Regions from separate parts of the Homo sapiens genome. Here regions 1, 3 and 4 are each linked to region 2. The links come from fine-mapping of genetic effects on gene expression. A gene starts in region 2. Each other region holds a variant in brackets. All regions are shown on one strand. Distances are between the middles of the regions. Region 1 has its middle 48 kb from the start of FZD10. Region 2 holds the start of FZD10-AS1 (FZD10 antisense RNA 1). Region 3 holds the start of LINC02419 (long intergenic non-protein coding RNA 2419). Region 4 has its middle 12 kb from the start of LINC02418.

Evidence for each region. PIP is the estimated chance that this variant, and not a neighbour inherited with it, causes the effect. A credible set is the group of variants that fine-mapping cannot tell apart.
Region 1: its variant is the best candidate, but not a certain one, in a credible set for the expression of FZD10-AS1 in minor salivary gland (GTEx, PIP 0.82).
Region 3: its variant is the best candidate, but not a certain one, in a credible set for the expression of FZD10-AS1 in putamen (GTEx, PIP 0.79).
Region 4: its variant is the best candidate, but not a certain one, in a credible set for the expression of FZD10-AS1 in anterior cingulate cortex (GTEx, PIP 0.59).

What each region holds. Positions count from the first base shown.
Region 1 is chr12:130,206,886-130,214,446 of GRCh38, forward strand. No RefSeq gene overlaps it. Among named protein-coding and RNA genes, the nearest start is that of FZD10, 48 kb to the left of the region's middle. The variant A/G (reference allele first, on the strand shown) is at 4,692.
Region 2 is chr12:130,158,211-130,165,771 of GRCh38, forward strand. FZD10-AS1 (FZD10 antisense RNA 1) reads right to left here and starts at 3,468. Exons shown (of 4, transcript NR_033834.1): 1 at 2,447-3,468. FZD10 (frizzled class receptor 10) reads left to right here and starts at 4,254. Exons shown (of 1, transcript NM_007197.4): 1 at 4,254-7,530. The coding sequence starts at 4,733. The coding sequence ends at 6,478. RefSeq lists enhancers at 2,734-3,300, 3,301-3,867, 5,454-6,449, 6,535-7,080.
Region 3 is chr12:130,070,574-130,078,134 of GRCh38, forward strand. LINC02419 (long intergenic non-protein coding RNA 2419) reads left to right here and starts at 762. Exons shown (of 2, transcript NR_146538.1): 1 at 762-1,065; 2 at 1,714-2,112. LOC105370077 (a long non-coding RNA gene) reads right to left here and starts at 708. Exons shown (of 4, transcript XR_945550.1): 1 at 673-708. RefSeq lists an enhancer at 5,025-5,552. The variant A/G (reference allele first, on the strand shown) is at 2,741.
Region 4 is chr12:130,050,654-130,058,214 of GRCh38, forward strand. No RefSeq gene overlaps it. Among named protein-coding and RNA genes, the nearest start is that of LINC02418, 12 kb to the left of the region's middle. The variant A/G (reference allele first, on the strand shown) is at 3,328.

The DNA of each region.
Region 1 (7,561 bases), 49 kb after region 2:
CAAAAAGAGCTGGATGGATACAGAAGTTACTTTGGAAGTCTTTTAGTGCCCGCTCTATTGAACAGAAGAGGGAACTGAGGCCCAGGGAGGGGAGCCCCAATATCTGATACATTTCATCAGGAACTATTAAAGGTCTCTTGCAAGAAGCACATCTGTTCAAATATTTGCATGGGCCTTCCTTGTGAGACAAAATCTTTGTCTTGATTTTGCTCTCACCTCCTGTGCTAGGAGAAGGGACACCTTGGGATTCCTTGTTCTCAAAAAAGAAAACTAAGGAAGAAATCACAGAGGGCCCCTGATATGGTTTGGCTGTGTCCCCACCCAAATCTCACTTTGAATTGTAAAAATCCCCATGTGTCAAGGGCAGGACCAGGTGGAGATAAGTGAATCATGGGGGTGGTTTCCCCCATACTGTTCTCGTGGTAGTGAATAAGTCTCAGATCTGATGGTTCTATGGGAGTTCCCCTGCACAAGCTCTCTTGCCTGCTGCCATGTAAGATGTGACTTTGCTCCTCATTCGTCTTCTGCCATGATTGTGAGGCCTCCCCAGCCATGTGGAACTGTGAGCCCATTAAACGTTTTTTCTTTATAAATTACCCAGTCTCGAGTATGTCTTTATGAGCAGTGTGAGACCAGCCTAATACAGCCCCCAAGTCAGTAAGGGAACCAGGTTCTATATAAAAGACCAAACAAAATTCATACCTGAAACTTACCTTGAAACAATTTTCAGAGTTCAGAGAAATAAAACAAGGTTTACACATTTTTGGACAAATTTATATGGGGTAGAAAGTGAAAGATTTCTTCCCACACTAACACATTTCTTTATATCCCTGCAGAATTTTTCCTTTGTTTATTTAAATAAAAGTCAACATAATATGCATATTTTTCTGCAACTTGCTTTAAAAGTTAACAATATACTGTGACTGTTTTTCCAGGGCAGAATATGCCAAATCAACTACATTCTTTTTAATAGATCCATGTTTCAATTTCATTCAGTGAACACCAAGGTTGTTTTGATTTTTGTTATTACAAACTACTCTGCCCATACATCCTTAGGCATAGAAAGCTGTAAATCTGGGGTTAGGTACAGAATCACTTCCAAAAGTAAGAGGTCTAGACAGAAGTTTATTGTCCTGATTGCAGACTCTCTCTTGTGCTGTTGAGTGACCTGTGTGGGCATCTCTCAATATATTTATTGTTTGGGTGTTTTTGATATCTGCTAAAATATGTCTTCCTCATAATACTTCCTATTTGAACATATTTTTAGCTATTCTCTTGCATTTTTCTCTTCAAGTAACCTTTAATAAATATGACATGTTAATAAATGCTTCATTAAAATATTGATTGGATATACCCTAAATTTATTAATTTACGACTTCACGCTATTGAGTTTTCTTTTATCCTTTTCAGTATAGTCTTATAATTTCATTCAGAGAGAGATCAAATACATGGGTAAGAATTTTATTTCTTCTTTTCACTGTTTTTAACTATTACTTTCTTCCTTACCTCATTGAATTAACTAGCAAGCCCAGAACAATGTTGAAAAACCCTGGTACCAGCAGATAGCACTGCCTTTCATGTTTCACCAATTTATCTAATGTTTACTAGTTATTGTTATATATCTTTTACCGTTAGAACTTCCTTCTGTCAATAGCCAAGGGAAAGCAGTAATAATTATCAAGTTTCCTCAGAATTTTTCCCATTTAATGATTGAATCATAATTTTTATCCTTCAACCTATTGTAGTAGTTAGCCTTCAATAAAATGCCCAATAATTCTCAAATCCTGGCATTCACACACCATGAAGTCCCCTCCCTCATCGTATAGGGCTGACCTGTGTAATCAATAGACGATGTGGAATAACAGAGTGTGAATTCCAGAGCTAGGCCATAAAATATCTCGAATTACTTGCTATGGGAGAATCAGCTGCCATGTTGTGAGGATGCTCAAAGAGTCCTAAAAGGTCCACATGGCCAGGAACTGAGGCCTCCAGCCAACAGCCATGGGTGCCTTCCAAGGCTGCCATCTTGGAAGCCAGTCTTCTGCCCCATTTAAGCCTTCAGATGACTGCAGCCCCATCAACTTCTTGACTGCAACTTCTTGAAAGGCACTCTAAGCTACAGCCACCTAAGTTGCTCTGGGTACATAACGGAAACTGTGATTAAATACATATCTATTGTGTTAAGCTGCTAAGGTTTGAGGTGATTTGTTATGCAATGGTAGATAACTAATGCACATACTAATTGATTTTTAAAAGTTTTCCGATGTTATTTCATCCTTTTATTATTGGAAGAAAAATAGTTTAGTCATGGTATATTATTCTTTAATACACCGATGGATTCAATTTGTTGATAGTAAATTTTGAGTTTTATTATTCTTATTTGCAAAAGTGATTAAACTCAATCTGTATTTCTTAACCTGTTTGTCAAGAACCGTAATTCTGGAAGTTTAATTGGAGCTCTGACAAAGGCAATTCTATTAAACCACTCTGGGAAGCATCTGTGTAATGAATGCCCCTCTTGGAGATTTACAATGCTCGTTAGTGCAGTGTTTTTACCACCTGAATCCAAATTACCTAGGTATCTGTTAAATTCAGATATTCAGGCTTTATTCAATAAAAATCTGTGATTTGGGTTTGGAAACCTGCATTTTAACAAGCTTTACCAGGGATTCTTACGCACACAAAAATTTTAAAGCTGTATCTTAATATATTAAAGGTTCTGGGAAGTTCAACAGTTGAAAAAACAAACCCTTAATGGTAAACAAGTTCATTTATGAGGGAAGGGTTTTTTCTCCATTTGTTAGATACATTTCTAAAAATATTAGTTTGGGTTTATAGTTGTATGTTTTAAATATACATATAATACTGTTAATTAGATTTTGGTGTCAGAATTTTATCAGTCTTGTAGAATATACTAGAAAATTTTCTGTGTTTTTTTCTAGGCTTCAGGATAGTTTAAATCATAGACGATTTATCTGTTCCTAGAGGGTCGGATGGTAAATTTTTGACATCCTTCTCATTTTTAAATAATTATTATCCAGATTTTCTACTTCTTTATTTAACTCTGGTAATTATTCCTTTCATCCAGATAAGGATTCATTCATACCTTCATACCTCTTGGTATGAGGGTATACATGGCATTCTCTAAGTTTTATAAATCTCTGCCATATCACTAAGTATTTTGTCTTATTTCTATCATGAACAATTTAGTTTTTCTCTCTCTCTTGTTCTCACTCTTGCTCTCGCTCAAGTTTGCCAAGAGATTTATCTATCTTAATCTATTCAAAGCTATGGTTCTTTACTTTATCAATTCTGTTTTTTATTCCTTAATTTTTTTCTATACAACTAATTTGTTTTCCATTTCACCTATTTTATTCATTAATTTCTTATTTTTTCTTAGCTTCTTCAGTTAAATATTTAATTCATTTGTTTTTAGCCACTTTATTAATAATAAGAGGATGTTCAGTCCAGGAATTTTCCCCTGATTACAGGTTGGGCCACATTCTGGTTTTTGTTGTTATTGCTATTGCTTGTTTTTTTTTTTTTTAACCTTCATCTTAAAGTTTAAATATGTGTGAAATACACACATAATTAAGAGTATCCAGTGCTTATAATTTAAGAAGCATCCCTTTTCCTCTCTCATACGGCCCCACGACTCCATGTTTGCTTTCCCAGGAGAAAGCATGCTGGATTGTTGCAGCTCTCTCTGGTCCATTTCCATTTTAAAAAGGTGTTTTCAGCATTACATCATGATATAGTATTAGTTTTAGACATTATCTGTTGACTGCCTGTTAGAAGAAACTATAGTCTCTTTTGTATGTGGCCCCTGCCTCCTTCCCTGCCACTCTCCCAGTATGAGTGAGATCATTTTTCTGAGATTATTTCTATAGCTCGATCACTTCTCAGGGCTTGTATTTGGAACATCTTATCTTGCCCAGTTTTTCCTGTGAATGTGGAAGAAACACTTGCCAATGAACCTGGCTGGACCCAGGCTCTTCTCTCCTTGAATAGCGGCAATAACCACAAGTCTTCAGCTTGACCTCTCAAGTCCACAGCGGCGGCCCGGGGTAGTCCATCAGGGGCTACCTAGGGTGGCTACAGATTTGGCTAGAGCCTTACCTAATACCTGAGAAAGTTGGCTTAGAGCTTCTCGTTTGGAAGAACTCATAGTTTTTGTCTCGCACTTTGTTTTTTTTTTTTTTTTTTAATTCTTGAGTTTATTTTTTCATTTTACTTTAAGTTCTGGGATACATGTGCAGAATGCGCATGTTTGTTACATAGGTATACATGTGCCATGATGATTTGCTGCACCCATCAACCTGTCATCTAGGTTTCAAGCCCTGCCTGTATTTAGTATTTGTCCTAATGCTCTCCCTCCCCTTGCCCCCCACCCGCCGACAGGCCCCAGTGTGTGACGTTCCCTCTCTGTGTCCATGTGTTCTCATTGTTCAACTCTTACTTATGAGTGAGAACATGCGGTGTTTGGTTTTCTGTCCTTGTGATAGTTTGCTGAGAATGATGGCTTCCAGCTTCATCCATATCCCTGCAAAGGACATTAACTCATTCTTTTTTACGGCTGCATAGTATTCCATGGTGTATATGTACCATATTTTCTTTCTCCAGTCTATCATTGATGGGCATTTGGGTTGGTTCCAAGTCTTTGCTATTGTAAATAGTGCTCCAATAAACAT[A/G]CGTGTGCATACCACAATGAGATACCATCTCGTGCTGGTTAGAATGGAGATTATTAAAAAGTCAGGAAACAACAGATGCTGGTGAGGCTGTGGAGAAATAGGAACACTTTTACACTACTGGTGGGAGTGTAAATTAGTTCAACCATTGTGGAAGACAGTTTGGCGATTCCTCAAGGATCTAGAACCAGAAATACCATTTTACCTAGCAATCCCATTACTGGGTATATGCCCAAAGGATTATAAATCATTCTACTTTGTTATATTTTTATTTATTGTGGAATATTTTATTTTATTTATTTTATTTTATTTGAGATAGGGCCTTGCTCAGTCACCCTGACTAGAATGCAGTGGCACAATTAAGACTCACTGTAGCCTCCACCACCAAGGATCAGGTGATCCTCCCACCTCACCCTCCAGAGTAGGTGGGACTACAGGTGCACTACCAGGCCCAGCTAATTTTTAAATTTTTTGTAGAGACAAGGCCTCATTGTGTTGCCCAGACTGGTCTCAAACCCCTGACCTCAAGCAATCCTTCCATGTTGGCTTCCCAAAGTGCTGAGATTACAGACGTGAGCCGCTGCACCCAGCCTATTATGGAATATTTTAACTTACACAAGTGAATATAGTAGTATAATGAACTCCCAGCTTCAGAGAGAGCGAGAGAGAATAGTGAGTCACTTAGCTTTAAGACTGTCAGTTCACAGCCAATCTGACTTCATCTATACCTCTATCCACTTTCCCACTCCTCTATTATCTTGAAGCAAATCCTAGAAATCATATTTTATTCATAAATATTTCAGTATGTTTCTCTAACAGATAAGGACACTTTCTTTAATATAACCATGATGCCATTATCCTAAAATAGTAATTCCTTAATATCAACAAAAATCCACTCAGTATTCAAATTTCCGGTTGTCTTCTAAAAGTCATATGGGGTCAAACCAAGTCTCTTTGATTTTAGGTTCTACTTGTCGGTTTGAACCAGGCGCTGAACAGCTCCACACCTGCTGACTGGCTGTACTATCTTTTGTTTTCATCTCTGGAGTTCCCAGCCATTTTTTTTTTTCAACATTTGTGGAAGAAACCAGTTTCTTTTGTCCTGTTTCCTAGTTTCGATTTTGCTAATCATGTCCTTGTGGGGCGTTGTGTAATATTTTTCTCTGTCTTCTGTGTTTTTTTGTGGATTGGAAGCTGGAGCAGTGGGGTTCATGAAACTCGATTTTTTTAAACAGGAAATCTATCTACGTGAGGTGTTGTCTTACAAGGAGGCATACGATGCTTGATTGTCTTTCATTTTGTTATGTTAACAGACCTGTGTTCAATGCCTGGATCCATTATTTTAAGAAGGCTTGCCAAATGTTAATGCTCCGTTCTCTTGTTTCCTCATCCATTCAGTGGAATAACTCCACAAAGAGAAGCTTCCTCCCAAATACTATTTAGTAATTGTGTGGCAATATTTTAAGTCTTTTTCTTTCATTAACATACATCAACAACAAATATAAGATTTGCTATGTATAACTCCATGTGTGTATATGGAAACTGAGGACTCTGAGTTGTCAAAGACTCCTAGAGCTGCCTAAGGAGTTTCATCAATAGATCTCTCACTGTTGTTGGTCAGCAGCTTGGAGACAGTTCCTTGACAGTGCCTGGCTGTCTAGAAGAGAACAGTCCACTCCCCATTCTCACTGGAGCTTGGTGTATCTGTGTGACTATGTTCCGGTCATTGAGATAAAAGTGGAAAACATGAGGCTGCTTTCATGAAGCTGTCTTAGAAGGCAGCTTTGCTGGCTCCTGACCTCCTCTTCCTTGCCTCTTCCTCGTGCTTGGAATACATGGAATGCAGAAGAGAGGGCTGGAGGTCCTGCAGCCTTCTTGGACTAGGAAGTCAAGCTCCACACCCTAGAAATAGCAAACATGAAAGCCACAAAGTCCACGGATCCCTGAAACTCTCCACATGCCATATTAACCTGAGCTGCCCACCTGCAGGTTGCTTTCACGTGAGAGGGAAATAGATTGCTATCTTCTGTAAGATACTGTATTGGGGATAAGGAGGTTCTATTAATCTTGATGAGTGGAGTTGTCCAGCTCCCACATCCTCCCAGGTGAAGCAGCTCTTCTCTTCACTCTGCAAACCTTGAAGACCTGCTTGGAGAAGGGCTGGGGGGAGCATGGGTCATATTCTCCTTTGGCACTCCCTCCACTGGCTCCAGCTCAATAACCTTTAATTCGGATGACACATGACCCCACTCAGCTACTCCAGTCCTGAAGTAGAGTTAAATGGGAAGTTATGTGCTCCAGATACAACTCTGGTCTTATCTCCTACCTCTTTAAAGCATCTGTGGAGGCACAGACGCCAGCAGCAATGGCCTCCCTCCCGCAGGATTCTGTCATCTCCTGTTTCCAGGCACCTGGAATCTTATGGGGCTTTTTAACTTCCAATCATAAAACAGCTTTCTCTGTCATCCAAGGCATGCATGGGCCATCTCAGCCCTTTGATCCCCTCTCTCCCTAACAATGCTCACCCCCTTGGACTGTGTTTCTCCAACATGTCTGGTTCTGCCAGCACACATGCTAAAAAAGGACAAATGTGGTTTCTTCTCTGTTATGATCATCTTGTCTGGAGAATTTGCCAGAATTCATGGAGTTGCATAAAGGTGCTAAGTGGAAAAATGGACTGTATTTAAGCTCAATTGTTTTGAGCTATGAAAATGCAAAGATGTGCCTCCACCTTGCTTCTTGCAGATTTTATCTAAGGGTCTAGAAATCTACAATAAGACATAAATGCCATCTACCCTCTCTGAGACTTTTGAGTCCATAAAGCAAATCATCACCCTCTAATTAAGACCTGCTTGTGTTTTCTGATTAACAGT
Region 2 (7,561 bases):
AGGAGCAGTGGGGAGCCAGTCGACGCCAGCGATCCAAAGCCCGGCCTTGAAAGAGGATTAAATCAATGCTCTGATTTGCAATTCACACTAGTGCACCCCGTGGAACCTTTGGTAATATTTCAAACCACATTTCAAGGGAAGTGGCCTTAAAATAGCTGCCTAAATTGTGCTGGAGCCACACTGGACACCCCACTCATCCACTTTAGGATGGGGGTGCTTCGGGGTTCATTTCTCACCTTCCCCCAAACCTCCACATCTCACAGCCAGTGTTTTTAGGCAGAATTAAAACTTTTGCGCCTGTTGAATTCGCTGCGACTTGCATGGCCTTTCTGGTGGTACAAACTGTGTTTTCTTTGCTAAGTATCACTTCAGATCACTAAAGGTATTTTCCCTGGAGAAAAAGATGGGGGCACGCCACGGGGAGCATGCCTACTTGATCAGAAAACATAATTTTTTGTGCATGTTTTATATCTGATAAGTTTCTGCAGAAACTTGATACTAGATGAGGTCAGAGAAAACAAGGTCTATTCACATCAGACTTCCCTGCATGTGAAGCAATTATTGGTAAATAGATCAGTTTTCATTCTCATACTTGAAGGTAGAATTGGAAATGTCCCGGACTAAATACAAACATTGACGACACGAGAAGACAAGAGAAGAAACACAAGAATCACTTACGTGGATCCTCACACTTGAATGTACCAAGAGAGGTGATTCAAGCAGCAGCTACTGAAAGGCGTTGCGACAGCCTGAACCACTTTTTATCTCAACATTCACCAGCACGATTTTACTTCTGTTTATGAGCTTTCTTCCTATGCCACCAGTTTACTCTTGCAATTAGCTTGTAACATGCTAAGCTTATGGTTTAATTTCTTTCTGTTGCTGAAAGACTCAGTACTTTTTTATCTTAAAGAGATTATTTGGGTTTTCTCTAATCCCATTTCAGAAAACCTCGCACAGTGCTTATAATTTCCATTGACTATTACATAATAAGAAAAGATACAACTTTGATTTTTAGCAATATCCGTGTCAAAGTACTTTTATACTTTTGACTTTGTGAGTTTAAATGGAATGAAACTGGGCCTCTCTTTCAATTCCCCTCCACCTCCAAAAAATATTTAGTTCTTGTTCAAAACACTGCCTGACTCCTGAAATATTCTCTCTCAAAAACCTCATACTTTCCCTGGTGAACGTTTGCAAGAACCTGAAGGCGGATAATGTTTACTGATAGCTTTCCGATAGACAGACATTTTTAGGTGGTTGGGGGTAAAAACATATTCCTTGTCTCTGCACGTTATGTGAAATCATGTTTAATTATAAAGTTTCATTAAAAATCTTTGCTCAAAATTTTAGAAGCCTAATAAGATTTCCATTAATTTAAACATATCACTATTCCCACGACGGCTCCAAAGCTTTCTTTTCCGTCTTTCATCCATGGTTAAATATGTAAATAAAATGTCTAAAGTCATTCTTCAAAGAAGACAAAAGAAAAAAGAGCTGAGGGAAAGACAGCCATAAAATTCCTCCCAATTCTCCATAACATTTGCCAGAGGGGGGTCGGTTGCCAGCCAGGGCTGAGCAGCGGGGGACCCCGGCTGCTCCTTAGACTCACACATCTCAAATCCCACACACAGGAAAAAAAATAAAATAAAATATCTTTTCAGCTGGGGCCATCAAAAGAGCCTTTTCATTTATTAGTTACAGACTTATCTTCCAGTTGCTGATTTCTCAGAACCCTCATTTCTCTATAATAAAGTCTATTTGTTGGTTTCCATCTCAGCTGGACAGGGCGAAGCACTTCTGCAGACATTTTTATAAAAAACGAGAGAAAAAGGCAATCTGAAGTGGTTATAGCTAAAATAATGGGCCTGAACGTGGCTGAATTAAAACAGCACAGAAAAGATCAATTAGGAGGCACTTTCTCAAATAGCTCACACCCAGCTCCCGGCGTTTGGCTCTCACTCTTGCACTAAATATTTCTAATAGTTGCTGAGGGAGAGACACAAAAAGGAAAAGAAGGAAAATAGGGCCCAGGAAGGACCTTTGCCAGGAAAATTCTAGAAAAGCCAAGTGATTTCCGCTGAATTAATTTTAATTTAAAGGTCCTGAAAAATTACTCACTAGACAAAAAACAACAACAACAAAAAAAAAAACACTATAATAAAAATGGCAGTCTTTCAAAAATAAAATCATGCAACTTTTCACTTGGGAAATAACACAGTTGAAGGTGGTGTTCTAACTGCCCGGAGTTTCTACCTTCTTTTTCACTTTCTCCCTCACCCCGACTTCCTCCAGCACCTCCTAGTGAGACCCAGGACACCCAGGGACAGCGACCCAGGGGTGGGTGCCTGAACCTGCCTATTAATTCTGGGATTCTGGGCGCTCAAATGTCTGTTGAACGGATGAATGAATGAGTGGAAAGGTGAGATTTCCCCAAGTTTCTTACCGATGTAAAAATTGTAGGGCTTGTTTTAATTAAAAGCCAATACTCTCCGAGGAAGTGGCCCCCTCCTGCACGGCGTGCAGAAAGCTGGTCAGTGAGGGGGGTTCCTGGCGGGCCCCATCTCCTTCCCGGGCGCTTCCTAGGGAGACCTTGCCCCGTGCGCAGCGTCCCCACCGCGGGGGCCCGTGCAGCCGCCCCCCACGCCGGGTGGAGCGCCGCCAACGCGGGAAGCCCCAGCACTGCCTCCAAAGATGTCCGCACACTCCACCCTGCTCCCTGGAACTATCCTCAAACGGGCAGGGGGCAAGCGAGGCCGGTGGACGCGGGACTCGCTCCTCTGACCTCTCCCCGGCCCCCCGGGAGGTAGCGGGAGATTGCACACGCGATCCTGCGAGTTTCCGAACTTTGGAAGATCGTGACCCGGAGAGACCCTGGGAGGAGAGGGCCGGCCACCTCCTAGGGGTGCTGTTTTTTTAAGGGTCAACCCAGGACGCTACGGGAAGCACCTGGCGCATCCTTGGGAACAGTGGGGCTTGGCGGTGGGCGCCCACCGCGAACGCCCTGGGCGGGGGAAGGGAATGGCGGGGGGACGTCGTGTCCTAAGTGACCCCGTCACAGACCCGCCCCAATCCGAGGGGGGATGAGCTCAGAGGACCTGCCCAGGACGCTCCTTCTCCACTTTCCAGGAAAACCGAGCGGCGTGCGCGCCTCCGTGTCCTCGCGGGAGCTGGGGGTCCCCGGGCAGGCGCTGACGCGCTCCTCCCACGACCCACTCCATCCCACCCTACTCCGGGTCCTCCTGCGGGGCTGCAGCCAAGGAGGGCGCTGGCCGGGCACATCACTCGCCAAATCACATAAATACCCCACGAGCGAATGACTTCCTATAATAAATAAACTCAGCCGCCAAGAAGGCATCTCCAGCCCTGCTGGCGCGAGGCCCCGGCTCTGCGGCTTCGGAGGGGGCGGGGGTCACCGCGGTACAAACCAAGCCCGCACTTCCCGCGGGGTGGGAGGCGGTGTTCAAAGTCCCGGGACGCTTCCCGCCCCTCCCCCTTCCCGCCTTCTTAGAGGAGACCTCGGATGAGCGGCCCTAAAATCCGGATTCTCGAGCCCCTCCCCCTCCCCTTAGCTCGTCTCTTTGAAATTTCAAAGAAAATCCCTCCTCGGAGCCCGGAGCCCGGGGCTGGTAGCACCTCCCCAGCCTCAGGAAGATGCGGGCAGGTTTACAAGCAAGGGCCTACTTTATGGCCCAGGCTATAAAACGCAAATCCCACCTCCCTTTGAAAGCGCCCTCCGCCCGGGACTCACCATAAAAGGAAGAGAAGATGCACCCCGCGCCCCTCGCCGCGGACCACCCCCAAACCCCTTCTCCCGCCAGTCCCCGAACTTCCCGTAACCTCGGCGTCCTCGGGGTGCCGGGGACCATCCCGGGGACCGCCGGGAAAGGGGGCGCCGGCGGAGAGGATAGCGAGAGGCAAAGTTGGAGGCCAGGCAGAGAGAGGGCGAGGAGAGGCGGGCGGGACTGCCGGGGAGGGTCGCAGCGCGCAGAGCCCCGCGCGCCAGGCGGGCTGTCCCGGGGCTGGCGGGCGACGCGGGCGGGACTAGGCGCTGCGCCCCCCGCAGGCTGGGCTGCAGGCCGGGGGGGATCGGCCCCCGCGGGGCCCGGGAGCCCGCGGCGGGGCGGCGGGGAGGAGGCTGCCCCGGGCCGCTGCGCTTTCTCATGCAAAGCAGCGGCGGGGCGGGGCGCGCGGCCCGGGGGCGGGGCCTGTCAGCGCTCGGCTTTTCTGCCCCCCTTTGCCTTTTTGCGAGTCTTCTCATCCCGGGACGCAAACCTCGAAACAGCTGCCGGCTGGTCCCGGCCGAGGCCGGCGCAGGGAGGGAGGAGCCGCCCGGGCTGTGGGGGCGCCGCGAGCTGGGCCGGCCTCGGTGTGCCCGCGCCGCCAGCCCGCTCCAGACGCGCCACCTGGGCGCTCCAAGAAGAGGCCGAAGTTTGCCGCGGCCGTGAGTTGGAGCTCGCGCCGGGCCGCTGCGCCGGGAGCTCCGGGGGCTTCCCTCGCTTCCCGGTATTGTTTGCAAACTTTGCTGCTCTCCGCCGCGGCCCCCAACTCGGCGGACGCCGGGCGCGGAGAGCCGAGCCGGGGGCGCTGTGCGCAGCGCTCGGGCCAGGCCGGGCGGGCATGGGCGGGGGCCCGAGCAGGGGTGGAGAGCCGGGGCCAGCAGCAGCCCGTGCCCGGGAGCGGCGGCGCTGAGGGGCGCGGAGCTCCCCGCGAGGACACGTCCAACGCCAGCATGCAGCGCCCGGGCCCCCGCCTGTGGCTGGTCCTGCAGGTGATGGGCTCGTGCGCCGCCATCAGCTCCATGGACATGGAGCGCCCGGGCGACGGCAAATGCCAGCCCATCGAGATCCCGATGTGCAAGGACATCGGCTACAACATGACTCGTATGCCCAACCTGATGGGCCACGAGAACCAGCGCGAGGCAGCCATCCAGTTGCACGAGTTCGCGCCGCTGGTGGAGTACGGCTGCCACGGCCACCTCCGCTTCTTCCTGTGCTCGCTGTACGCGCCGATGTGCACCGAGCAGGTCTCTACCCCCATCCCCGCCTGCCGGGTCATGTGCGAGCAGGCCCGGCTCAAGTGCTCCCCGATTATGGAGCAGTTCAACTTCAAGTGGCCCGACTCCCTGGACTGCCGGAAACTCCCCAACAAGAACGACCCCAACTACCTGTGCATGGAGGCGCCCAACAACGGCTCGGACGAGCCCACCCGGGGCTCGGGCCTGTTCCCGCCGCTGTTCCGGCCGCAGCGGCCCCACAGCGCGCAGGAGCACCCGCTGAAGGACGGGGGCCCCGGGCGCGGCGGCTGCGACAACCCGGGCAAGTTCCACCACGTGGAGAAGAGCGCGTCGTGCGCGCCGCTCTGCACGCCCGGCGTGGACGTGTACTGGAGCCGCGAGGACAAGCGCTTCGCAGTGGTCTGGCTGGCCATCTGGGCGGTGCTGTGCTTCTTCTCCAGCGCCTTCACCGTGCTCACCTTCCTCATCGACCCGGCCCGCTTCCGCTACCCCGAGCGCCCCATCATCTTCCTCTCCATGTGCTACTGCGTCTACTCCGTGGGCTACCTCATCCGCCTCTTCGCCGGCGCCGAGAGCATCGCCTGCGACCGGGACAGCGGCCAGCTCTATGTCATCCAGGAGGGACTGGAGAGCACCGGCTGCACGCTGGTCTTCCTGGTCCTCTACTACTTCGGCATGGCCAGCTCGCTGTGGTGGGTGGTCCTCACGCTCACCTGGTTCCTGGCCGCCGGCAAGAAGTGGGGCCACGAGGCCATCGAAGCCAACAGCAGCTACTTCCACCTGGCAGCCTGGGCCATCCCGGCGGTGAAGACCATCCTGATCCTGGTCATGCGCAGGGTGGCGGGGGACGAGCTCACCGGGGTCTGCTACGTGGGCAGCATGGACGTCAACGCGCTCACCGGCTTCGTGCTCATTCCCCTGGCCTGCTACCTGGTCATCGGCACGTCCTTCATCCTCTCGGGCTTCGTGGCCCTGTTCCACATCCGGAGGGTGATGAAGACGGGCGGCGAGAACACGGACAAGCTGGAGAAGCTCATGGTGCGTATCGGGCTCTTCTCTGTGCTGTACACCGTGCCGGCCACCTGTGTGATCGCCTGCTACTTTTACGAACGCCTCAACATGGATTACTGGAAGATCCTGGCGGCGCAGCACAAGTGCAAAATGAACAACCAGACTAAAACGCTGGACTGCCTGATGGCCGCCTCCATCCCCGCCGTGGAGATCTTCATGGTGAAGATCTTTATGCTGCTGGTGGTGGGGATCACCAGCGGGATGTGGATTTGGACCTCCAAGACTCTGCAGTCCTGGCAGCAGGTGTGCAGCCGTAGGTTAAAGAAGAAGAGCCGGAGAAAACCGGCCAGCGTGATCACCAGCGGTGGGATTTACAAAAAAGCCCAGCATCCCCAGAAAACTCACCACGGGAAATATGAGATCCCTGCCCAGTCGCCCACCTGCGTGTGAACAGGGCTGGAGGGAAGGGCACAGGGGCGCCCGGAGCTAAGATGTGGTGCTTTTCTTGGTTGTGTTTTTCTTTCTTCTTCTTCTTTTTTTTTTTTTATAAAAGCAAAAGAGAAATACATAAAAAAGTGTTTACCCTGAAATTCAGGATGCTGTGATACACTGAAAGGAAAAATGTACTTAAAGGGTTTTGTTTTGTTTTGGTTTTCCAGCGAAGGGAAGCTCCTCCAGTGAAGTAGCCTCTTGTGTAACTAATTTGTGGTAAAGTAGTTGATTCAGCCCTCAGAAGAAAACTTTTGTTTAGAGCCCTCCCTAAATATACATCTGTGTATTTGAGTTGGCTTTGCTACCCATTTACAAATAAGAGGACAGATAACTGCTTTGCAAATTCAAGAGCCTCCCCTGGGTTAACAAATGAGCCATCCCCAGGGCCCACCCCCAGGAAGGCCACAGTGCTGGGCGGCATCCCTGCAGAGGAAAGACAGGACCCGGGGCCCGCCTCACACCCCAGTGGATTTGGAGTTGCTTAAAATAGACTCCGGCCTTCACCAATAGTCTCTCTGCAAGACAGAAACCTCCATCAAACCTCACATTTGTGAACTCAAACGATGTGCAATACATTTTTTTCTCTTTCCTTGAAAATAAAAAGAGAAACAAGTATTTTGCTATATATAAAGACAACAAAAGAAATCTCCTAACAAAAGAACTAAGAGGCCCAGCCCTCAGAAACCCTTCAGTGCTACATTTTGTGGCTTTTTAATGGAAACCAAGCCAATGTTATAGACGTTTGGACTGATTTGTGGAAAGGAGGGGGGAAGAGGGAGAAGGATCATTCAAAAGTTACCCAAAGGGCTTATTGACTCTTTCTATTGTTAAACAAATGATTTCCACAAACAGATCAGGAAGCACTAGGTTGGCAGAGACACTTTGTCTAGTGTATTCTCTTCACAGTGCCAGGAAAGAGTGGTTTCTGCGTGTGTATATTTGTAATATATGATATTTTTCATGCTCCACTATTTTATTAAAAATAAAATATGTTCTTTAGTTTGCTGCTAGTCCCTGGTTCATGGTGAGGTTTCCCTTCTC
Region 3 (7,561 bases), 88 kb before region 2:
GACTCGGGTTTCAGTAGAATCAGGATGAGCCTGCTGGGCAGCCGGGTCACAGGCCCCTAACTCACCTGCAGACCCACGCAGATCAGTCTTCGCAGTGAGCTCAGGGCAGACCTCAGCTTTGCTCAAGCCCGGCCCTGCCACAAACATGCCTCACCTCCTGCCACCTACCCTGGCCGTTCCTCCAGCCAACTGGGCATGAGAATGAAAACTCCCACAAGTTCCATGGGAATGCATATTTGATGAACTGGAAAAATATCAGGCTAACTAAATAAAAGTTGGATTTCCCTGAGCCTCACTTGCTGGTCACTGCCCTGTCACTTCTGAAAGTCATGTGGACTCCATTATTTGTTTATTTTTTTGAGACGGAGGCTCGCTCTGTCGCCCAGGCTGGAGTGCAGTGGCGTAATCTCGGTTCCCTGCAACCTCTGCCTCCCGTGTTCAAGCGATTCTCCTGCCTCAGCCTCCCGAGTAGCTGGGATTACAGGCGCCATGTTAACCAGGATGGTCTCGATCTCCTGACCTCATGATCTGCCTGCCTCGGCCTCCCAAAGTGCTGGGATTACAGGTGTGAGACACCACACCTGGTTAATTTTTGTATTTTTTAATAGCGATGGGGTTTCACCATGTTGGCCAGGCTGGTCTTGAACTCCTGATCTCAAATAATCCACCCACCTTGGCATCCCAAAGTGCTGGGATTACAGGCATGAGCCACCACACCTGGCAGGGCCCCATTATTACATCACACACAGAGAGGGTTCTGAAAGGCAGCAGGGGCTGTTGAGGGTGAAAGTCAGTTGTCTTCTGGGTGCAGCTACAGCTATTCCACCTGTCATGCAGGTAGCCATCCACAGTAAACCGTCAGCTTTTCTCCCTTACATTTTTCTCTTTATACTTGAGAATTATGTTTTCACTTGGGCCATAAAGACATTTGGGCTAAGTCACAGGAAATAGGACGCTGATAAATGAGGACTGCAGTTTCTTCTCTTGAACCATTGAATACCCCCCGCAGGAAGTACACGGGAGAAAATAGGAGGGAGATTGTTTGCGGAGGGCTGCAGCTGAGCAGTAAGTCCACTTAGTAGCTTCTCCCTTATTCCTGCCCTGCAGGCAGATAAGCCCAACAAGTGAAATGAACCCCAGTTCCCAATCACAAGATTATGTTCTGGGACCACTAAACTGCAGTTGTGGAAAATGGGCCTTACAAATACAAGTTGTATTAATCTGTTTTCATGCTGCCTGGAAAGACATACCCGAGACTGGGTAATTTATAAAGAAAAAGGTTTAATCAACTCACAGTTCCATGTGGCTGGGGAGGCCTCACAATCATGGCGGAAGGCGAAAGCCATGTCTTACATGGTGGCAGCAAGAGAGAGAATGAGAATCAAGCAAAAGGGGCTTTCCCTTATGAAACCATCAGATCTCATGAGATTTATCCACTACCTCGAGAATAGTTTGGGGGAGACCACCCCCATTATCCAATTATCTCCCACCAGGTCCCTCCCACAACACATGGGAATAATGAGAGCTAAAATTCAAGATGAGATTTGGGTGGGGACACAGCCAAACCGTAGCAACATAAAACAAGCATGGGAGAAAAGATGTTTCCAAAGGATCGTCCATATTTAGTTAGCCAAGACTATAACCACAGCTGAAATCTAAGGTTTCTGATGGAGAAGAAGACCTTAGTAATTTGGTTTTTGTTTTGTTTCATAGAAAGAACACTGACCATAAGATCTGCCCTCTTAACACATTTTTAAGAGCGTGATACAGGATTGTTAACAATAAGGAACATGGTTGTTTGTTTTTCTCTTAATTGCTTTTTTATTACGAAGCTAAATGATTTTTAAGAGCGAAATTTGAATATAAAGAAAATAATAGGGCTTTTGACTTTTCTACTACAAGAAGGTGGCTTCCTCAAGGCATATGATTGCAATCCAAGCGATGCTATTTCCAGATGGTAAACAACCCTCTTTTTTACAATCATGTTGCCTACAAGTCTAGGCAGACAACCCTTGGTACTTACATACACCAGGTACTAGAGAAAAGCTGGAAAATGCAGCCAGTGGTCTCAAGGCTTTCAAAAATGAGACCTTAATAAAGAGTTAATATGAACTGAGTGTTTATCCTTGAGCAGGTACTGTATACACGGCACGTGGGTGAGCTCACTGACTCCACACAACAACCCTGTGAGGCAGATGCTATCAGCTCCTGCATTTCACAGATGTGGAAACCGAGGCAAAGTGAGTGCAGCACCTTGCTCAGGTGGTCCTGCTGGTCCACGACAGAGCCGGGTTTTGAAGCCGAGGGGCTTGGCTCCAGGGCCCAGCTGTCTACACTGTGCCCCAGTGCCTCGTGTTAGCATATTCAGTGTTATTTTAAGCGGTTCCACTCTCAATCAGAATGACAGCATCACAGAGCAAACATCACGTAGGCATTGGTCTAAACCCAGTTGGCACAAAAGGCCCCAAATTGAAGTCAGAAACTGAGTTCAAACCCAGATTTGCAACCACTGGCTTGGTGACTGTAGAAAGCCACTTAAGCCCTCTGTATCTGTATTTTTCTTATCTCTAAAAAGAGTGTAAACCTGACACGTGGCCCAGTGATCTCAGAGTGTAGCCCTGAGGATCAAATGTGGTCACGCGCGTGCACGCACTGTGAAGATGGGGCCAGCTTTCCCGGGGAGAGGCATGACAGTGGCAAACACTGTCCTACTTTTAACAGACACCGTCCTACTTTTAAC[A/G]GACACCACACATCGGCTCTGTCCCAGGTACATGCTCGTGAATGAGCCGAAAGTACAGAAACTTCCAAATGATAGAACCTCAGCTTAGTGTTGGGAAATGAGTGAAAACCAAACACCCTCGACACACACCCTTAAAGAAGACAGTCTTAATCTGTTAAGCGTTGCAGTCCCAAGTGAGAGCAAATGTTGCAGGCAAGGGAAAGGGATAACTTGGATTTTCGGGTGGATCACCTGAGGTCAGGAGTTCAAGACCAGCCTGGCCAACATGGGAAACCTCATCTCTACTAAAAATGCAAAAATTAGCTAGGTATGGTGGCAGGTGCCTGTAATCCCAGCTACTCAGGAGGCCCAGGCAGGGGAATTGCTTGAACCTGGGAGGCGGGGGTTGCAGTGAGCCTAGATCATGCCACTGCACTCCAGCCTGGGTGACAGAGTAGGGTCTTTCTCAAAAAAAAAAAAAAGTAACTGAAAGAAAGTACCAAATCAATATTTTACTCAATGATTTATGTTCCTGTAAGAGCTCTGGCCATCTTGCCAGTACACATTGGCACGGGTGTGCACACTTGTCATCAACGCATGCATCATCAGCTGTAAGCAAGAGCCTGCATTTGAATGTAGGTGTGTCCTGGCAGGCCTGAGAAAGCATCAGAGCCCAGAATGAATTCATTTCCTTAAGGAGTTTTAGGAGAAACTTAAGCAATGAAGATGAGAGTTTTGCATTGGTGCCCAGAAGGTTTGGCGAAAGCAACAGGATGCCCTTCCCAGAGGTGGCTGTAGGGGCCTGTGTCTGGGCACTAGAGGATGGAGGCAGTGTGAGAGCCCTATGGGCACTGCTGAGGGGTGCAAAGTGGCTCTCCTTTTGCCAGTTAAGAAGGCGGCTGTGGGGTGCATGCCCGTCAGGCCTGTCATAACCGGCACGAATGATGTTGTCCGACAGGCATGGGGATCTACACAGGAATGAAAACAACTCCAATTTCGGCTACTTTCTATGTGCTGACCGTTGCACTGATGGCTTTAAATATTTTATTCTAAAGCTGTTTCTCACCACGACCCTATAGATGTTATTGTCTCCATTTTATGGCAACGGAATCCCAAAAGGGCAGAGAGGTGGTGAGTGCAGCAAAGGAAACTGTCAAGCAGTCATGAACACGGGGGTCCCAGGAAGCAGAGATCTGGTACGGGTTGTCTACTGCTGGGTCACAAATTACCTCCCAAACTGAGCATCTTAAACAACAAACATTCACTGCTTATTTCTGTGGGTCAGGAGTTTGGGAGCAGCGTAGCTCAGGGGTTCTGGTTTAGGGTCTCTCTGAGGTTGGCCAAGGATGGGCTACCGCCACTGAAGGAGGAGAAGGGGGATCTGCTTCCAAGATGGTGTGCTCACTGGGCTCTGAACGCTTGCATGTCCTCGTGACATGGCCCCTGACTTCTCCCAGAGGGAGTGATCCCCAGAGAGAGCAAGAAGGAGACTACCCTGACTTCCATGACCTAGTCACAGAAGTCACACACCATTGCTTCTGCCATGCTTTATTTCTTAGGAGTGAGTCACTGAGTCTGGCCCACACTCAAGGGGGAGGAATTAGTTTTCACCTCTTGAAGGGTGGAACATCAAATAATGCATTATATTTTAAAGCCACCAGAGATCTCTTTAGAAAATGGGGCTCCACATTGGCCTGTGGGGCTAGTGAGCTGGTGAAGGGCTCCCCCTCCACCCCCGAGGCGGGAGGCACCTGCGGAAACTCAGCGAGGTCACACGATGTGCACATCTCCACTTGACATGAGACACCATGGAGATCAGGGGCCATAGTGTTTTCCCTCCTCCCTGTGCTTTTAGCAGTTTCTAGTCATTTCCTTGTCATCCTCACATTGCTATGAACACTTAGTAATGTGAACACAAACCTCCCAGTGGACTCACATGCTCAGAGGGCACTCAAGACTGGGGGAAGCAATGCAATCACAGCAGCATAAATATTCCTGAAGTCTGGGAGCCTCAAGACAGAAACTAGGTCACCAGGGCCTGCTAGTCTGGAGGAGCTGGTGTGCTCCCTTTAGTGTGCATGTGAATGAAGACACCGTCAGAGATATTCCTAGGGGCCACAAATTCTCCTGCATCCTTGCTTGCTCCTCCGAAGGGAGGGTCAGATGACGTGTGCAGCCTGGCCTCAGAAAGCTTGTGGGCCAAGTCGAATAGTTGCAGATGGGCTGGGACGTCCAGAGTCTGTTGCTCTGGAACAGTTGCTTACAAGTCAATGTATGTCTTTCATTCACCCACAAAACCGCACCATGCAACTCCTATGAGCAATGAAATAAGAACAAGTAATAAGAGACAGTAACCAGGAGATCTGGGACAGAAACACCCACGTGGAGCTATAGTCGCAGTGGATCCTGTGAAGGAAGGGCGTTGAGTAAAGGGACAGAAAGTGACAGAATGTGTTTCAGGTGGGATGGCCAGGGAAAGCCTTGCCACAGAGGAGGCCTACAAGCAAAAGCCTGGTGGGTGGGGGGTTAGGGCTGGAGCAGCTAGGTGCCTCCCAGGGGCAGATGAGGACCTCACAGGCCCCCGCTGGGACTTCAATTGTGTTGTAAACGTGGTTGGGAATGGTGGAGGAGCAGAGGGAGCAGGACCTGTTCTAAGTTTTAGAGGAATTGCTCCCAGCAGAGAACTGGCTTTCAGGGCAAGAATGAGAGCAGGGAGACCAGCAAGGGGGTATGGTCTAGAGAGGAGGATGAGTCTGAGGTGGGGAGACAGAGGTGGAGGGAGACTTCGGTTCAACGGGGATCTGTTTACAGGAAAAGATGACAGGAGTTCCTGATCGATCCAAAAGACAAAAGACAGGGGGTGCAGACTCTGCTGGGATCATCCAGGGCCACAGGGTAGTAGGAGCAACTTCTGGAAGACAGAACTGAGACGGTTTAAGGGATGTCACAGGAAAGAAGAGTTATAGTGTGCAGTAGCTCATCCATTCCTCCCCATGATCCTATGAGCTCGGCCCTGCCATTGCACCCATTTCCCAGATGAGGACACTGAGTCCTAGAGAGGTTAAGTGACTTGCTCATGGTCACAGAGCAGGAGGTGGCAGAGCCAGGGCTCACATGCAGGTATCTCAGGGAAGGACACCCAAGCTTTAAAAAAAAATTTAAAGGATACACTGTCATCCTATTTACTAACAAAATTTAACAAAATGAGACTACAATATTCCTTCTCCAGATGCTGTGGAGTAAATGCAGGATGAAGTCACATTTTCATAATTTTAAAACAGTTCCTAAGATCATCAGTCAGCAAAGTGAAGAACGAGAACCTATTGGAAGGTTCCCTAGGACCTTTCTGTGAATGTCCTGCATTTTCTTTTGTAATACTTTCCATCTCTGGTAAAGTAGATCTGCTTTAAAAGTACTTTATTGTGTTTTGTTCCCGATTATAAAAGTAATATGTATTCATCCTAGAAATAATCACCACTCACAGTTTGGTGTATTTCCTTCTAGTCTTTTTTCCCCTAAAGCATGCATAAGTGCTTGTTTTTGCACGTGTAACTTAATACACATTATAGTGTGTGTCCCATGAAAAGCACGTCTCAAGGAAGTGAGAAGTTGTCTTTGCAAACCCTGATGAGGTGTGAGAGCCCTGGCCAGTGCCAGACAAAGGCAGTCCCAGGAGCCCTCTAAGAATGGAAATCCTGCCCTAGTGGCCCCACGGCTCTACACGCAGACAATATCCGTTTGCTTTTCCTCTTTTACCAGAGAGATTACATCACCATCTACACATTTTTTTTTTTTGGTTGCTGTTATAGACTGTTTTTGAAACAGTTTCCAGACTTCCTGTAGGCTGTTTGTTTTGTAAACGCTTATCCATCTGTCCTTCTCCTTGAGTAAATGGGTCCAGGAAACACCCACTCTTTAGGAACACTCCCCCGTCCACCATTGGGCTTTATTTAATGTGGAGCTAGATCTATATAAAGCAAAATAAAAATACACAAAATGAAAGTGATAGTGATAAGGATGGTGGTGGTCATGGTAGATGCCAGTTTCAAACACAAGTCTATGCCAGGTGCAATGCACTAGTCCATTCTCACGCTGCTATGAAGAAATATCCAAGACTGGATAATTTATAAAGAAAAGTGGTTTAATTGACTCACAGTTCTGTATGGCTGGAAAGACCTCAGGAAACTTACAATCACGGCAAAAGAGGAAGCAAACATGTCCTTCTTTACAAGGCGGCAGGAGAGAGAAGTGCTGAGCAAAGGGGGGAAAAGCTCCTTATAAAACCATCAACTCTCTTAAGAACTCACTCACTATCATGAGAACAGCATGAGGGCAACTGCCCCCATGATTCAATTACCTCCCACCAGATCCTCCCATGACATGTGGGGATTGTGGGAGCTACAACTCAAGATGAAATTTGGATGGGGACACAGCCAAAACATCATGCAGTGTTCAGAGTTTGGCATGCATTTGGTTATTTAAGAGTCATCACGATTTCCTTTTTCTCAAATGAGGAAACTGAGACATGAGCCCTTTGCCTAAGGCCACATAGTTGGGAAGAGCCATAAATCCAGTAACTAGTCTCTGCAATTCTCAAACCCAAGCTCCTAATCACTTATATAAATATTGCCTCCAATGAGATAAAGAGAAAAAGAGACAAATAGAGAAAAACGACAGAGATCGATTCAAAAAGAGAGAGAGATGGCAACACAGACACAGGCATAGGATGCCTCTTGGGTTAGATGACCATAGAAGACAAGAGATGTATCTGTGCACAAAAGCTGATGGTCTCAATGCACAAGAGTCACCCCCACACACCAGGTAGTTACACAGTAAACTTGG
Region 4 (7,561 bases), 110 kb before region 2:
TGATCTCACAACCACTAACGGGTCACTCACTCTATCTGCCTGCCTGCCTCTCTTTGAGGTTTATAATAGAGCCACACCCAGGCAGGGTTAACATTTAAATAAGCCCCAGATTTTCAGAACCCTGTCTTGGCAGTTGTTTGTTTTATTAATATACTAGGAGTTCCCCAAATTGAATTGGCCTCACCCTCTCAACCTCCAAGATGCTCTGTCCCTGCCAAGACAAATTTGTAACTCCCTGCTTCTCAAAAAATAAAGATCAGTCTCCATACTTCGATGTTGAGGATCTTCCGTGGCTCAGCCGCAACCTGCCCTCCTGGCCCAAGGGCTGCTGTGCCCTGCCCACCTCTCCTCTCTGTCCCCTGAGCACGTTGTTCCCTCGGTGGACTCTGGGTAGCCTTCCTCCTACAGCCCTGGCCGCCCCTCCCCTCCACAGCCCCTTCACACTCAGGTCACTCCCTAGAGGAGGGGACAACTGCCCCTCTGTCCTTCCAAAGCCATTGATGCAATGATCCCACGGCCATGTGTGTGCAGAGACTGTGCTGGGCAGTGGGAGATGCAGTGATGAGAAGGCGAGACCAGATCCTGTCCTCAGGGAGCTCAGAGTCTCATTACGGAATAATCATGGTAGATAGCATCTTTATATGCTACTGATTATGCTTCAGATACTGTTCAAAGCACTTTACACAGATGTGCTTACTAAATCGTGGAAGCAAGCCCATCAGGCAGTACCATTATTCTTCCCAGTTTGCAGATGAAGACAGAGGCACAGAGAGGGTGAGCCACTTGCTCAAAGCCACACCGCTTTTCAGTCATCAAGCTGAGATTTGAATCCAGGCAGTCAAGCTACAGAACCCATGGTCTGAAACAATTAAAAACCAGAGTCTGTTCATCAGAGAAGCATAGCGAACATCTGTTATCTTCCAGGGGAACGTGACTTAGGCTTGAGGTCAGGAAAGGATTTTCTCTCTTTAGACTCATGCCCCGGGTCAAGACCATCTATAAACTGATGACTCTAAAGTTATTTCTTCAGATGCACCTGCACACCTGCCCCATCAGTATCGCCATGGGCATGCCCGAGAGGCCTCTCAAAATCTTCAAGTCCCCAAACAAACTCTTAGTCTTCCTCCACACACCATCTCCTTCCACACTTGTCCCCACCAGAACAGTTAACACCCATCCTCCTGATAGCACAGCCCCAAGCTTCTGAATCATCTGACTCGCGCCTCTCTCTCTCTCTCTCTCTGTTTCTCTCTCGCACACACCCCTGTCTCTTTTCCCACCCAAATATTGCTTCTCTGAGACCAAAGAGTTTTGTGTGGGTTTTGGGGTTGCTTTTCTCTGTTTGCTTTAATCACCCTATGCCCGGCGTCTAGATCAGGGTCGGCATATGCATTCTCTGCATTCTCTGTCCCTGGTTAGGTAACAGATACTTCAACCTTTGCAGACCCTGCGGTCTCTGTGGCAAGCATTCCACCCTGCCGCCAGGGCACACAGCAGCCACAGATGATATCTCGGTGAGGGAGCGCAGCCGTGTTCCCATAAAGCCTTATTTGTAGACACTGAAAGTTGACTTTCCTCTGAGTTTCATGTGTCACGAAGTAGTCTTCTTTTGATTTTTTCTAATTATTTGAAAATGTAAAAATAGTTATTCGCAGGCAGACTAGATCTGGGTTCAGTCCCAGAGCCGTCGTTGGCTGCCCCCTAGCCTGCCTGTAATAGGTGCTCAATGAATATTTGCTGACTGAGTGGGGAACATGACCTTGGATCTTAAATGTGAGATAAGAGAGAATTGATCAGATGACGGAGAGAAATAACCATCCAGACAGAGGGGGCGGCATGGGACAGGTACAGGTGCGGAGGGGAAGGTGGCCCTTTCTGGTGCTTGAAGGAAGCTCAGGGCAGCTGGAGTGGAGAAAGCCAAGTGCTGAGGTTGAGGACTAGCATTAGCAGGGTCGCGAGGACCCTCTGTGCGTGGACATTGTTGAACAACACTGGGTAATAACGACCAAGGCTGAGCCAGGGCTGGTCCGTGTGGGGACTTTCCCACGCGCCACCACAGTCACTGCTCCCTGTCAACACTCCTGTTAGGTGGGCACCACTATTATCTCAATAGACAGATGTAGAAATTGGGTCACAGAGAGGTTGAGTAACTTGCCCAGGGTCACACAGCCTGTCGGTGGCCAAGCTGGGATTCAAACCCAGGCAATGGGCTCCAACACCCTTCCCCCATTCATGGGACAAGGCGGGCTTGCCATAGCAAATAAAAATTCAGGGCCGGGCATGGTGGCTCATGCCTGTAATCCCAGCACTTTGGGAGGCAGAGGTGGGTGGATCACCTGGGATCAGGAGTTCGAAACCAGCCTGGCCAACGTGGTGAAACCCCATCTCTACTAAAAATACAAAAATTAGACGAGCGTGGTGGTGGGTGCCTGTAATCCCAGCTACTCAGGAGGCTGAGGTGGGAGAATCTCTTGGACCTGGGAGGTGGAGGTTGCAGTGAGCCAAGATCACACCATTGCACTCCAGCCTGGGGGATAGAGTGAGACTCTGTCTCAAAATAATAATAATAATAATAATAATAATAATAATAATAATTCAGGACTTCATGTTAATATGAATTTCAGATAAGCAATAAATGATATTTTAGTATAAGTATGTCCTATAAAATATTTGAGGCATACTTATACTAAAAATTGTTTCATTGTTTATCTGGATTTCAAATTTAACTGTATTTTTATATTTTCTCTGGCAATCCTGTGGCTAGGGCGAGCCCTGGGCACAGGAGGGATCCCTGTAGATGCTTAAAGACATGAGGATAGGAAAATGTTCTTATCTGCACCCCAAGAATGCCAGCGGTGGCAGGAGACAGGCAGCCCACGTGTGGACTGCAGGATCCTGTTTCACAAACTGAGATGCTCAGAGAAGGGCAAGCTTGAGGCAGGAGCGTGTGCACGCGGCAGGCTCCCGGGGCTGCACCTGCTGAGGATCTAGCGCCCCACTTTCCTCTGCATTTCTCCATTTATCAGCCACCTGCCACAGTCTGTCATTCCCCAGGCTCAGGAGGAGAGTTGGAGGTGGCTTTGTGAGCCACACAGAACAGGGAGGAAGCACAGCCGCCTGGCCTCCTGCTGTCGAAAGGGCGTGGCAGCCTCTAATTCAAACACAGGCAGGCTGGTCCTGGCCCCTGGGTGAAAGACAGCCGGCCCAGGGTTTTCATTAAGGAGGTAGAGAAGAATGCTTTCTTGGCCTGCTGCCCTTTCTCCTGCCACAGAAGAGGGGTCGGGAGCTGTGAGTGGGCTACAACTGCACCCCAGAGCTCCGGCAGGG[A/G]GCCCAGTCCCCGGCTTCCGGGCTGACAGTCCCCGAGACAGAGGCGGCCTTCATCCCTGGCCATCACACTGGTGCTTCAAGGCAGACAGCTGCCTCTTGCCGGAGCAAAGCGTTTACTAACTAATTTGTCAATGGCCAGCCTGGAATTCACCCTCTTCAGCTTGATCATAAGAAAAATTTAGCTCAAATTTAGAACTGCTGAACAGTTCAGAGGCCACGGTGTCAAGTGCTACCTGGAGAGGTGGGGAGCTACCCACTCCAGTGCTGTTTTCCACTTCATGAGGACCCTGGTGGTACCTGCTCAGCACTGGGCATTGTGAGGATTCCTGGGAACCCACATTCACGTAGTGCAAAGTGGCCCAAACCTTGAAAAGGCTGGAAACCAGTATGCGTGTCAGCTGGGTTGAAACAGGTACATGATTCAGTGAGACCAGGTGTGTACAATAGGGAGTAGTGGAGACTGGGGCAAATTGGGACTGCAGGCCTCATCTGAAAAGGGGAAGCCGCTGCTCCGTTCCGCTGAATGTCGCCATTTGGTGAACGTATGCTGGGACATATGACTTTTCATTGGTGTTGGAAATCTAGATTTAAAAAAAAATGTAAAGACTCAAATTCTGGGGAAACAGAAAACATCTATGGACCAGGTTTGGCCTAAGAACTGCTAATTTACAACTTCTGCATAAATCACACTGCAGTCTGTGTGTGGACTCCGTACAGGCATACACACGTGTGGACACCCAGGACTCCAACTCGTGAGGCCTGTGGGGAAATGTCACATGCAGGAGACACACACACACCCACACCACCACCACCACCACACACACACCACACATACACCACCGCAACCACAAACACACACAACCACACGCACAACCACACGCATACACAAATGACCACACACACAACCGCACACATATAAACACACCACACACAAAACCACAACCACACACACAACCACAACCACACACAACCACATACACATACAACCACACACAAGAACATACACAACCACACACAACCACAAACACAACTACACACACAACCACACACCACCATACCACAACCACACACACAAACCCCACAAAGCCGCACACCACACACCACCACAAACACACACCACCACAAACACACACAAACACACACACCCAACCACAACCACACACACACACCACAACCAAACAAAACACTGCACACACACCACCACAACCACACACACAACCAAAACACACACCACACACACCACCACAATCACAAAAAAACACAGATACAACCACACACATCCACACACACAACCAAACATACACACCACCACATCCACACACACAACCACACACACACCACCACAACCAAAAAAAACCACACACAAACTGCCACAGCCACACACCCAACCACACACACAACAAAACACAACACACCACCAGAACCACACACACAACCATACACACAGTCACACACACAACAGCCACAAACACACACAACCACACACATGCAGACAACCACAACCACACACAGCCACATACACATCACCACAACCACACACAACCCCACACACACCACCACCACCCACAACCACACACAGCCACATACACATCACCACAACCACACACAACCCCACACACACCACCACCACCCACAACCACAACCACACACACAACCACACACAGACAACCAACCACTCACTTCAGAGCAGATCCTGAGCTGGGAAAGCAAAGGTAGCCGATCCTGAGCGCCCCTACCTGCCAGGACGTACCCATGGGAGTCTCCATGCATCGGCCCCTCTCATTCTCTCACCAGTCCCAGCAGTGAGCACCATTATGATCAGCCTCCTTTTGCAGATGGGGAAACTGAGGCACTGAGTGGTCAAGTCACTTCCTAAGGTCTGAGAGCTGCTCAAGGGTAGCCAGGCTGTGGAGCCGGCTGGACTGGCTCAGTAGCCCTGCCACCTGCCCAGCTGCTCAGGGGCTGCTTGAGTCCTCGACAGTGCAGGGGGACTGGAATCTGTTCACTGTTCCCGGCATGGAGGGTGCAGCAGTGAGAGCAGTGAGGGTGGGTAAGGAGGCGCAGACTCAAGAGGTTGTGGGACCCGCCAGAAAAGAAGGGGCCAAATGCTCCCCTACAGTCCTGCAAGGCATACTTTTTTTTTTTTTTTTTTTTTTTTTGAGACAGAGTCTCACTCTGTTGCCCAGGCTGGAGTGCAGTGGCACGATCTCGGCTCACTGCAACCTCTGCCTCCCAAGTTCAAGCAATTCTCCTGCCTCAGCCTCCCGAGTAGCTGGGACTACAGGCGCCTGCTACCACGCCCGGCTAATTTTTTGTATTTTTAGTAGAGACAGGATTTCACCATGTTAGCCAGGATGGTCTCAATCTCCTGACCTCAGGTGATCCCTCCCGGCTAGGCCTCCCAAAGTGCTGGGATTACAGGTGTGAGCCACCGCATCTGGCATACAATTTAAAGGTTACAAAGGAAAAGGAGAAAGAGAAGAAAAGAGCACTGTCATCCTCAGACATATAACTAAGAAGCCTGGAGAAGATCCCAGGCTCTGACAAGGACACTTGTCTTTCTGACCATAAAACCACTTCTGTTTCTTGAGCACTTACTAGGGGCCAGGCACTGGGCTAAGGAAGCCCTAGGGGGCATCCACACTGCCAGGCAGGTTGTATTATCCTCCCATTTTATGGACAGTTCAACTGAGGTTTAGAAGGATTAAGTAAGTTGCTGGAGGTCACGCAGCCAGAAAATAGCAGATCCAAGACTCCTGCATGGCAGTAAGATGCCTGGGCCCTCGGGGGAGCTTGTCAGGCTGGTCCAAAGCCATCCAGCCCACTGTTCTGTGATTCCCCATCAAAGGTGAGTGATGTGGTTTGGGTCTGTGTCCTCACCCAAATCTCATGTTGATTGATAATCCCCAGTGTTGGGGAGGGACCTGGTAGGAGATAATTGGATCATGGGGGGCGGATTTTCCCCTTGGTGTTCACATGATGGTGAGTACCAGTTGTTTAAAAGTGCATAGCACCTCCCCTTTGAGCGCTCTCTCTCGCTCTGTCTCTCTCCTGCCATCATGTCAGATGTGCCTGCCTCCCCTTCGCCTTCTGCCATGATTGTAAGTTTCCTGAGGCCTCCCCAGCCGTGCTTCCTGTACAGCCTGCAGAACGGTGAGTCCAGTAAACCTTTTTCCTTTATAAGTTACTCAGTCTCCGATAATTCTTTATAGCAATGCGAGAATAAATGAATACAGTGAGGCTTGGCTTAAAGGCAACAAAGTCCATATTAAGGACCTTCTTCAAGGGAACTTTTTCAAGGAAGGCATCTCCAGCAGCCCAGATGACTACCACGGGATGCTATTTACACACGATTCCTCGTGATGCGTGTTATTCACCGTCGCGCCGGGCTTGTCCACTGGTCTGTTGACTTCATGAGGACCAAGACCTCGTCTGTTTCACTCATGATGATATCCCTAGCACCTGGCCAAATGCCTCGCAGCTGCTGAGACAGGAGACACGGCACATTGGGAGGGGTGGAGGAGTGTCTCCCAAAAAGATATGTCCAAGGAAGCGACCTTATTTAGAAATAGGTCTTTGCAGGTGTAATCCAATTATAGATTTGGAAATAGGATTATCTTGAATTGAGGATGGGCCCTAAATCCAGTGATTGGTGTCTTTATAAAAGAAAAGGAAGGAGGACGTGAGACCCAGGGGTGCAATGGGGAGGCACTGTGAAGACAGAGCCGAGGCGGGAGGGATGCTTGCCTCGGCCCAAGAATGCCAAGCACTGTCCGCAGACACCAGAAGCCGGGGAGAGGTGAATGCTTTTCCAGAGGGAACCAGGGCTGCCAACACCTCCATGTCTAACTTCGGGCCTCTTGAACTGTGCAAAAATAAATTTTAGCTGTTTTCACCCATCCAGTTTGTGAACAGTTGTTGCAGCAGGCCTGGGAAACTGATACATGTATTTTCTGAATGAAGAAACATCTAAAAAGAACTTCTGCTGGCAGAAAGCCTGTAGCCCAGGAAGTAGATCTTTGAAGAGCACCTATTCTGCATTCAGGAACCACCTGGTGAAGTTCTTTCTGAGGAATTTAGATTTTGTGTAGCCAGGCGTCTTCCAGAAGTGTGGTGAGGGAGTCATTGCTGAGAGACTTGTGCAGTGAATATTCCAACTCCCGGGTTTGATGGCATTCCTGGTTGGGGGTGGTGGCTGGCACCTGTAATCCCAGCTCTTTGGGAGGCCAAGGCA